2 separate regions of the Homo sapiens genome follow, and region 2 is linked to region 1. The links come from fine-mapping of genetic effects on gene expression. A gene starts in region 1. The other region holds a variant in brackets. All regions are shown on one strand. Distances are from middle to middle.

Region 1 (4,249 bases):
CTCCTCCCACCCTCCACCATCCAAAATTAACCAGTGAGCTGGATATTACCTGGATATTGCCAGGAGGTGGGCATTAAGACAGTATTCTTTAAAAGTGAAAATCTTGTGAGGCAAACTGCTAAATTCACATTTTTGTTTTTTTTTTTTTACCATCTTCCCTAGGAATATTCCTAGAAAGCATCTGCTTAATTTTGCTGCTAACAGCTAACCTTATCCCACGTTGAGGGTGGTATTAAAACTGTTCACACAGAGTGAGCCTGGGTCAGTCAAAAACAGAATTTGGGCATTTGAGTGATAACAGACAACCTAAGGACAATGAGCACTTTGCAGATCTCTACAATTAAAAGTTGCCTCTTTGAGGCAGGAGGGGAGAAGCACAGTCCCTGCCAGGTTGCCTGAACTAAAGATGCCATGGAGCAGGAGTGTCTTGGTGCATTGTTCCCCGCTTAGGAGTACCTTTAAAAAGGGGGTGAAATAAATTTGGCTTAATAATTGTATTCTGACTCAGCTCTGAGTTTTTTGTGTCAAATTCCATGGTATGGTGACAGATACAGTACTAGATACTGCCTCAGCTCTCTCTCAGCATAATATTGACAAACATTTGGTAAAATGTGTTACCAGTCGTTATCTTGGCTTCAGCCTTCCTCTGCATTGGCTGAGTTGCCGTTTCTAGCATGATACATGCTTTATTAGTGACAGGATGTGAAGTGTCTCAGGGATTTCCTTTTGGTGAGGACCCCAGACCACCCGAAGAAGAATTAGAACTTTCTGGACTACAGGTTATATACTGTGATTTTGCTCTGTCAAGCAACATAAATTGATCCTTGAACGCTGTGAGAGTTATGGACACAGACCCTCACACAGTTGAAAATCTGCTATGACTTTTGACTGCCCGAAAACTTAATAGCCTACTGTTGACTGGAAGCCTTATTGATAACATAAACAGTTGATTAATGTGCATTTTGTATATGTAGTATATACCTTATTATAATAAGCTCGAGAAAAGAAAATGTTATTAAGAAAATCAAAGAAGAGAAAATACATTTACTGTTCATTAAGTGGGTCATCATGTTGAGCAGGCTGACGAGTAAGAAGAGGAGGGGTAGTCTTGCTGTCTCAGGGGTGGCGGGGAAGGAAGAAAATCTGCATGCAACTGGCCCTGTGCAGTTGAAGGCCCTGTTGTTCAAGGGTCACAGATTTAGCTTCACTTACCCACCCCTCAGATCAGAATTACTCAAGATTTCCCTGTCTTCAAAGAGACGCAAGGAAATTATGCCAAATGGTGAATATATTGGGTGGAAGATAAATGAGAGAAGGTTGTATGTGTCACTGATCTCAACTATAGCATTTGCTGCTGATATAGAACATGCTGTGTATATATCTATAAATACACACACATGAACACATTGCATGTATATAAAAATTGTTCACACTTTTAGTGGTGCTTACTGGGTATTGGTAAAGGATTGAGTAGGCACTGTGATGAAACTTCACAAAGCAGATGGAAAAGATGCATTAATAGCCACAGGGGGCAGGGTAAGGGAGCAATTCAGGAAAATGGAGAGGCTTAGCTAAAATTTGTCAGTCAGGAATTTTGGCATTTGAGACTTGTTTTCATACTATGTATATGTAATAGACAAACCCTTCATTTTGTAGTAACAGTGTTAGAACAGCCAGGTGCCTGAAGGCAAGCGACACAATTCACTGAAGAGCATACTACAGATGTAGTATCCGGATATCAAGTTTCCCCACTTAAAAAATGGGTGCGATCAAAGGAAAAGCAAGGAACGGGCAGGAGAGCAAGCGTGAAAGGTGACAAACTTGACAATTACAAGGCCGAGACTAAGGCCAATTTAGGGAACGGGCTGTTAGACTAGGAACAAGGGCGAGTTCAGAGGGAGGGGCAGAATGTGGGCAGCACTCCTGGGCCCTGAGACCCTTCTGCGGAATAAAACTCTGGCACTTCGCCACCTCCTAGGCTGAACCAAGATGGCGCGCGGCCTCAAAGCGGCGCTCTCGTCACGTGCCCGGACCCGAGGCGCTTGGGGGCGGGAGGCGTGGCCTCGGTCGCGGCAGCCCAGCCCCGCCTAGGGGGCGGAGCCGGGGGGGGTTGTCCGCGGAGGAAGGGGGCGGGGCCCCGCGGCCGCGCGCTTGGGCGGCGGAGGCTGCAGCTACCTCGGCGCCGGCTCGGCTCTAGGACGTGTCGGGCTGCACGGGTCGGGGGCGGCTCCCTGCTGCTTCCGAGCCTAGCCGCCTGGCCTTCGGCATTTGCAGGCAGGTGAGCGCCCAGAGCCTGGACTGGGGTAGGATGCGTCTTTTCCCCATCTCCAGCTCCCCTCGACAGTTTGGGGAGGGGTCTCGTCTATCGCACCTCGGGAAACAGCCCTTTTTGACTCCGTATGTGCTACCTCCGGCAGGCGTCGGTACTGCTTACCCTGCCGCCCCTCGCCCTCCTTTGCGGTGCCCTGTGCCCTTGGGGGTGAGGATAGGGGCGATGCCTGATCTGCGGGGAGGGCGTGGAGTGCGCCCTCTGCTCCATCGGCTTCAGGGGAGGGGGCCGAGTTGGCGAGTCTCCCGGTGGGAACGGAGCAGACTGCGCCCCCATTTCCCCTCCAGGAGAGTCAGAAAAAGCGCCTCTCGGCTCCGGGGCCAACCCCACTCCTTTGGGGACGCGATTCTGATGGGCTGAGGTCTTCGCTCTTCGCGGGGGTCTTAATCTTTCCCGAGTTGCTCATAGCACCCCTGTTCCTGTCGCTAGCTCTCCATTCCTCGAACTGCCAGCCTCAGTCTGTGCCAGAGATGCCCCCATCTCCGCAGTGCCAGGGCGGTGGGGTGGAAGGAGCGGCCAACCCGAGGCCTGGTGGGGGTGGGGACAGGGGTGGGCGCAACAGGAAAAGAGGGCTGGAATAGAGATGCCTGAACTGGGAGGGTGGGAGTGGGGCGCTGACTTACGTCCACGCAGTAGGGATGTTTTCCAGCGCAGATTTTGAGGTTTTGATGGTGGGTGGGAAGAGAGAGGTCGGGCTGGAGGACTTGGAGACATGGTGTAGGTGGTTTTCTTCGAGAAGGAGGAGGGATCCAGGACAAGGTGCCACTAGGAGCTGATGTCACCTTTGAGGAGAGGTGTGCTGGTAGTTTCCATCAGAGGAGCAGGAGAGTTGGGGCCGTTCTGTGTGGAGAGCAAGTGGTTAAGGAGGCGCTGCTTCGCAGGGAGATCCCCTCCTGGTGTGAGCTTAAGGGTCCCCTCCAGGAGCCAGGTTTCAGGGATTTCCCATAGTCCTTTCCAGAGTTCTTGGATCTGGTACCTAGTACTTTGCTCAACATCCAGCAAACATTTGTTGGACACCTACTATCTGCCAGATACTATGCTCGGTGCTAGGTCTTCTGAAGGCAATTTACAGCCACGGAGTAGCTGAAAGGTACACATAGGAGGCACACATAGCAGGTATTCTGTTAACACCCTTCTCACCGCCCATCCCCATTCTGTTACATTGCTGTTGGATTAGAAAAAGAAAGAACTGTGTCCACGTGCTTTCAAACAGCTGTCTGAATTAGACTCCAACCTACACACCCCCTACCACTATTAACTGGCCAGGTAGTCCCAGGGAAGCTGCCTAAGCAAAAGGGCAGCTTGAATGATTTCCCTTGGTTATTTTCTCAGATTTTGTCCTGAGGCTTGAGGAGGCTTCGTGGGGTAAACGGTATCTCAAAGTAAGGAGATAATGAATGACAAAATGGTTATTGGGGGCCAAGAATGTCCTAGACACTCTGTGTAGTGGGAGACGCCATCTCTGGAAGATGGAATAGTGTGGGGGAGGAGGGTGTAGAAGGGAATTCGCATCCAGTGGAGTTGGGGTTTGTGCTGCTGAGCATGTCGTGATGTCAGAACCGTGTGGTGCATGAGGTCTGGCTGCTGGGCTGTAAAGGAGGGCTGGAGGGGCAGGGCATGGCAGGCAGCCAGGCTCCTGGGTCTCATCTCTGAGTTGATTGCTGAAATCTTAGAGTTGGAAAGAGTTGTCAGGGATGGCTTATAGGTCCTCACAGAGCCTCTGAGGATGGCAGAGCTAGAGCTAGGCAAGAGAATGAGTAGTCAGGCTGTGGTGGTGATGAGGTGGGGATGAAGGCTCAGCAGGGCTGGGGAGCTGGGTGTTAAGGGGGTTTTAAGATATGGGCAGCTAGCCGAGGCCTTCGAATGCCAAGGACATTCTTCCCTGGGCTTTAGGCCCTACTGTGTTGGCTCCATAGGTGA
Region 2 (4,249 bases), 43 kb after region 1:
ATTATGACCGGAAGGAGCTGGAGAAGAGGCGAGAGGAGAGCCAGCATGAGATCAAGGGTAAGCTCGTCAGGCTTGGAGAGGGTTCGGGAGCAGCCTGCTTGGCTGGTCCCTGCCTTGGGCCAAGTGGAGGGGAGGCATTCTGTGTCTCAGGGAATCTTCCAGTCTGAAAAGGAAGATGCAGCCTCACCTTAGGGAGCTCCCAGTCTGATGGAGGAGACATAGTCCATGCCAAGTTGTCTATAATTCCCCTCCCTCAACCCCACATACCAGATAGCAGCCACCAACTGGACAAATGCAGTGAATCCTCTGGGACGGTGTTATAGACTGGTGTGCCTGTGGAACTTGTTGATCTGGATGGGGCTGGATGGGAGATGCAAGTCTTAGAGGAGACCTTGAAGGTGGAAAGAATAAGAAGGCCATTCCAGCTTGGGTCAGGGGGATGACCCGTGCAAGGGTTCTGGGGAGAAAGCTTGGAGCCTGTTGGCCTGACCCCGGGTCCTGTAAACTGGCAGGGATGGAGTGAGTGGGGGGTTGGTTCCCCAGGCACCCAGGTGCCAGGGAGGAGAGAAAGAAGATATGGAAATTTAGGGATGGAGTGGGGGTCAGAGAGCAGGGTGGACTGCGGCTCTGGGTTTAGGGAGCTCTGCTTCTGTCCTTGGAGGGCCCTTGATGAAACGTAGTATCTCCTTCCGTCCCTTTTCTTCCCCCACACTCCAGATGTGTTAGTCTGGACCAACGACCAGGTGGTTCATTGGGTCCAGTCTATTGGGCTCCGGGACTACGCAGGAAACCTGCATGAGAGTGGTGTGCATGGAGCCTTGCTGGCCCTGGACGAGAACTTCGACCACAACACACTGGCCCTGATCCTCCAGATCCCCACACAGAACACCCAGGTGGGCAGCCTTTTAATCAGTCAACTTGAGTCTCTCCCTGTATCCCTCACTTGCTCTCTTTCTTTCCCTCATACACAAAGGCTTAGGTATCTTGGGGGGTGGGGAGCTTTTCTAGGGCCTATGCCAGAGGGGATCGCAATGTCCTCAATTCTCCAAGTGATCGCTGTGCATAAGCAAGCCCTCATGGGAACACATGGCCTTCACATACAGAGCACACCTAGCGTGGGCCTGGCACACAGTGTGCTCTTACAATGCGCATCCCCGTCCTGCCCTGGGTACCTCTATCTCCTCCTAACCCCACTTCATAGCTGAGACTCTGAGCCTTCCTTTTCATCCTGCTTCTCTGATCTGACTTTTCTTAGAGGGGAATGAGCCCCAGGGCCCCTAGGGACCAGAGAGCCCATATCACCTTTGTCTACCACCCTAGGGATCTGCTCCTGGGCCCCCAGCCTTAAAAAAGCTAAATATACCAAATTACACAACCCAGAGCCTCTCCACACCAGGGCTTTGGCTCTCTGTCAACAGCTCAAATGATTAAACATCTCATGAAATTACATTTCATCATTTTTATGGAGCTGTCATCTAAGAATATATCTAAATTCTCTTGAACCTATTTATATTTTTGGCCTTTCTAACTTCCTGTGGGTAATAGATTCTAGAAGTACTGCTTGTTGTGTAGAGTACTTCCTGATTTTATTTGT[C/T]CTGAAAATGCCCCTGTCAGGCCCCTGGGGAAGGAACTACCTCCTCTTGATGGTTTAGGTTTGGTAAGGATATTTGTATTTAACTAGTTCTCACCTTTTATGATTTCATAAACTCTGATTGTATTGCCTCTGGGCCCAAGCCTTTGTCTCTCCAGACGGAGTGTTCTTAATTCTTTTAGGCTTTCCTCATATAGACTCGCCTCTGTCCCCTGATTGTTTTAGCTGCCCTTGTCTGGACTGTTTGCAGCTGTCAGATCTCTTTTGAAATTCAGCCACCAGAGCTGCACAGGCTATTCTGGGAGCAGACACGTTTTGGCTTGAATGAGGGTAGGGCTGTGTTGTCTCGTAATTCTGGGCAGTGTGTTGGCCTTTTGGGGGTGGTGGCAGTGCACAGGGCCATTGTGTCCTGTAGGCATTCTGCAGTGACCCCCCCGCCCCGCCCCCACCCCAACCAGTCAAAATAGATAGGACAGATCCCTTCATTCTCCAAGAGGAGCCTGGATTTTTCCCCCAAGTGCGTTCTCTCCACTTGCCCACTTCGGGCAAGCCTCGTCTGCCACTTTGCTGCCCACTCACCTCTCTTTGTGAGACGCTTCTGAAATTTACACCTATCCTCCTCACCTTTCACTGCCCAGAGGAGCAGTGTCATTTGGATACTTGAAATTTACTGTGCTTCTCCTTTCAGATCATTTCTAAAAATGTTATGTTCCCAATACTGGCACAGACTGTCCTTATGGAACTCTACGCTTAATATTTTCTACCTAGAAATGGACTTTTCTCTTTCTTTGATTTCCTATCTCTAATGCATTCAGTTTTGGAGGATAGCAGTAATTCTGTAAATAGTAGCAGGGACACCTCCCTATGGCTTTCTAACCTTTCTTAATTTCCTGACCCCGTCATTGAGCTTAGCTGTTGGGAGAAGTAGTGTGTGACCCAATACGGAATCCCTCATTTAAAATGGTTAAAAATGGCTCGGTGTGGTAGCTCAGGCCTGTATGCTCAGCATTTTGGGAGGTCAAGGTGGGAGGATTGCTTGAGGCCAGGAGTTTAAGACCAGCCTGGGCAACATAGTGAGACCCAGTCTCTACAAAAAGTTTAAAAAATTAACTGGGTTTGGTAATGCGTGACTGTAGTCCCAATTACTCGGGAGGCTGAGGCGGGAGTTTTGCTTGAGCCCAGGAGTTTAAGGCTGCAGTGAGCCATGATTGTGCCACTGCACTCCAGCCTGGGCAACAGAATGAGACCCTGTCTCCCTCAAAAAAAAAAAAAAAAAAAAAGGTTAAAAATATCTGGTAGCAGTTTTGAAAACTTTTCTGTTTTTGGCATTTCTGAAAACTCTGAATGAGTTAATCTCCTGGGAGGCCTAGAGAGAGTCTGTATGCACACAGCCCAGGGACAACCAGTATCCACAGCTGAGCAGGCTTCCTAATTTTAAGTTTTTGATGTGAAAACTTATCAGATATATTTATTTAATCCAAATCAGTCATGTTCTGGTTATCCATGGTTTACATGCTTACTTACCCCTCCAGAAAGAGAAAGACAGGCACAATTTTCCCCTTTCAGACAATTTTTTTTCCAAGTAGGTGACGTCTCTTTATCTATGTGTTCTATGATCCCACTTTTTTGTTTTTTTTTTTTCTTAGAGACAGGGTCTTGTTCTATCACCCGATCTGGAGTGCAGGTGTGATCATAGCTCACTGTAGCCTCAGACTCCTGGGATCAAGCTATCCTCCTGCCCAACTAACTGGTAGCTGGGACTGTAGGTGTTCACAACCATGCCCAGTTAATTAAATTTTTTTTTTTTTTTGAGACAGGGTCTCAGTATGTTGCCAAGACTGCTATTTTTTTTTTTTTTTTTGAGACAGAGTCTCACTCTGTCCCCCAGGCTGGAGTGCAGTAGTGCCATTTCGGCTCACTGCAAGCTCCGCCTCCCGGGTTCAAGCAATTCTCCTGCCTCAGCCTCCCGAGTAGCTGGGACTACAGGCGCCTGCCACACCATGCCTGGCTAATTTTTTGTATTTTTCGTAGAGACGGGGTTTCACTGTGTTAGTCAGGATGGTCTTGACCTTCTGACCTTGTGATCTACCCGCCTCGGCCTCCCAAAGTGCCCGGCCACTACTTTAAAAAAAAAAATTATGTTGTTCTAATTTGCTGTATATGAAAGAATCCTAGGCTTACAGCTTTACTTATGAGTTTGCTTGAAGGAGCAGCTTCAAAAAGGTGTGTAAAGGCCTCTAATGGGCTAAATGCACTGGAGCCTTGCATCTCTGACCTTGGACCCTTGGAAAATGGTGAAAGATGGCATAAAGGTAGTTAACTATAGCCCTTCCCACCTTTCCCTCTCCTGCTCTATGGACTGCAGGCACGCCAAGTGATGGAAAGAGAGTTCAATAACCTGTTGGCCTTGGGCACAGACCGGAAGCTGGATGACGTGAGTACCTGGCCATGAATTAGGAGCCTTGGGGATTTGGTCATCTTCGTTGGATTGAGGTTCATGAGTTCTGCCTTCCCTGGGCTAATTGTTGGAAGGCTAGTCTATGGGAGGAGAGCCAGAGGGGATGGGGATAATGTCAGGGGGTTGAGGAGGTGGACCAGCCCTAGAAGAACTTGTCTTGGGTAGTAATAGGCTGTCGAGAAGTCTCTGTGAAACTCCTG

What was found. PIP is the estimated chance that this variant, and not a neighbour inherited with it, causes the effect.
Region 2: its variant is fine-mapped to the expression of PPFIA4 in whole blood (TOPMed, PIP 0.91).

What each region holds. Positions count from the first base shown.
Region 1 is chr1:203,024,352-203,028,600 of GRCh38, forward strand. PPFIA4 (PPFI scaffold protein A4) reads left to right here and starts at 2,140. Exons shown (of 30, transcript NM_001304331.2): 1 at 2,140-2,278. It overlaps TMEM183A (transmembrane protein 183A), which reads left to right. Exons shown (of 8, transcript NM_138391.6): 8 at 1-497. RefSeq lists a silencer at 1,930-2,239 and an enhancer at 2,066-2,587.
Region 2 is chr1:203,067,736-203,071,984 of GRCh38, forward strand. PPFIA4 (PPFI scaffold protein A4) reads left to right here. Exons shown (of 30, transcript NM_001304331.2): 26 at 1-57; 27 at 718-893; 28 at 3,957-4,025. Among named protein-coding and RNA genes, the nearest start is that of MYOPARR, 14 kb to the right of the region's middle. RefSeq lists an enhancer at 1,732-1,781. The variant C/T (reference allele first, on the strand shown) is at 1,595.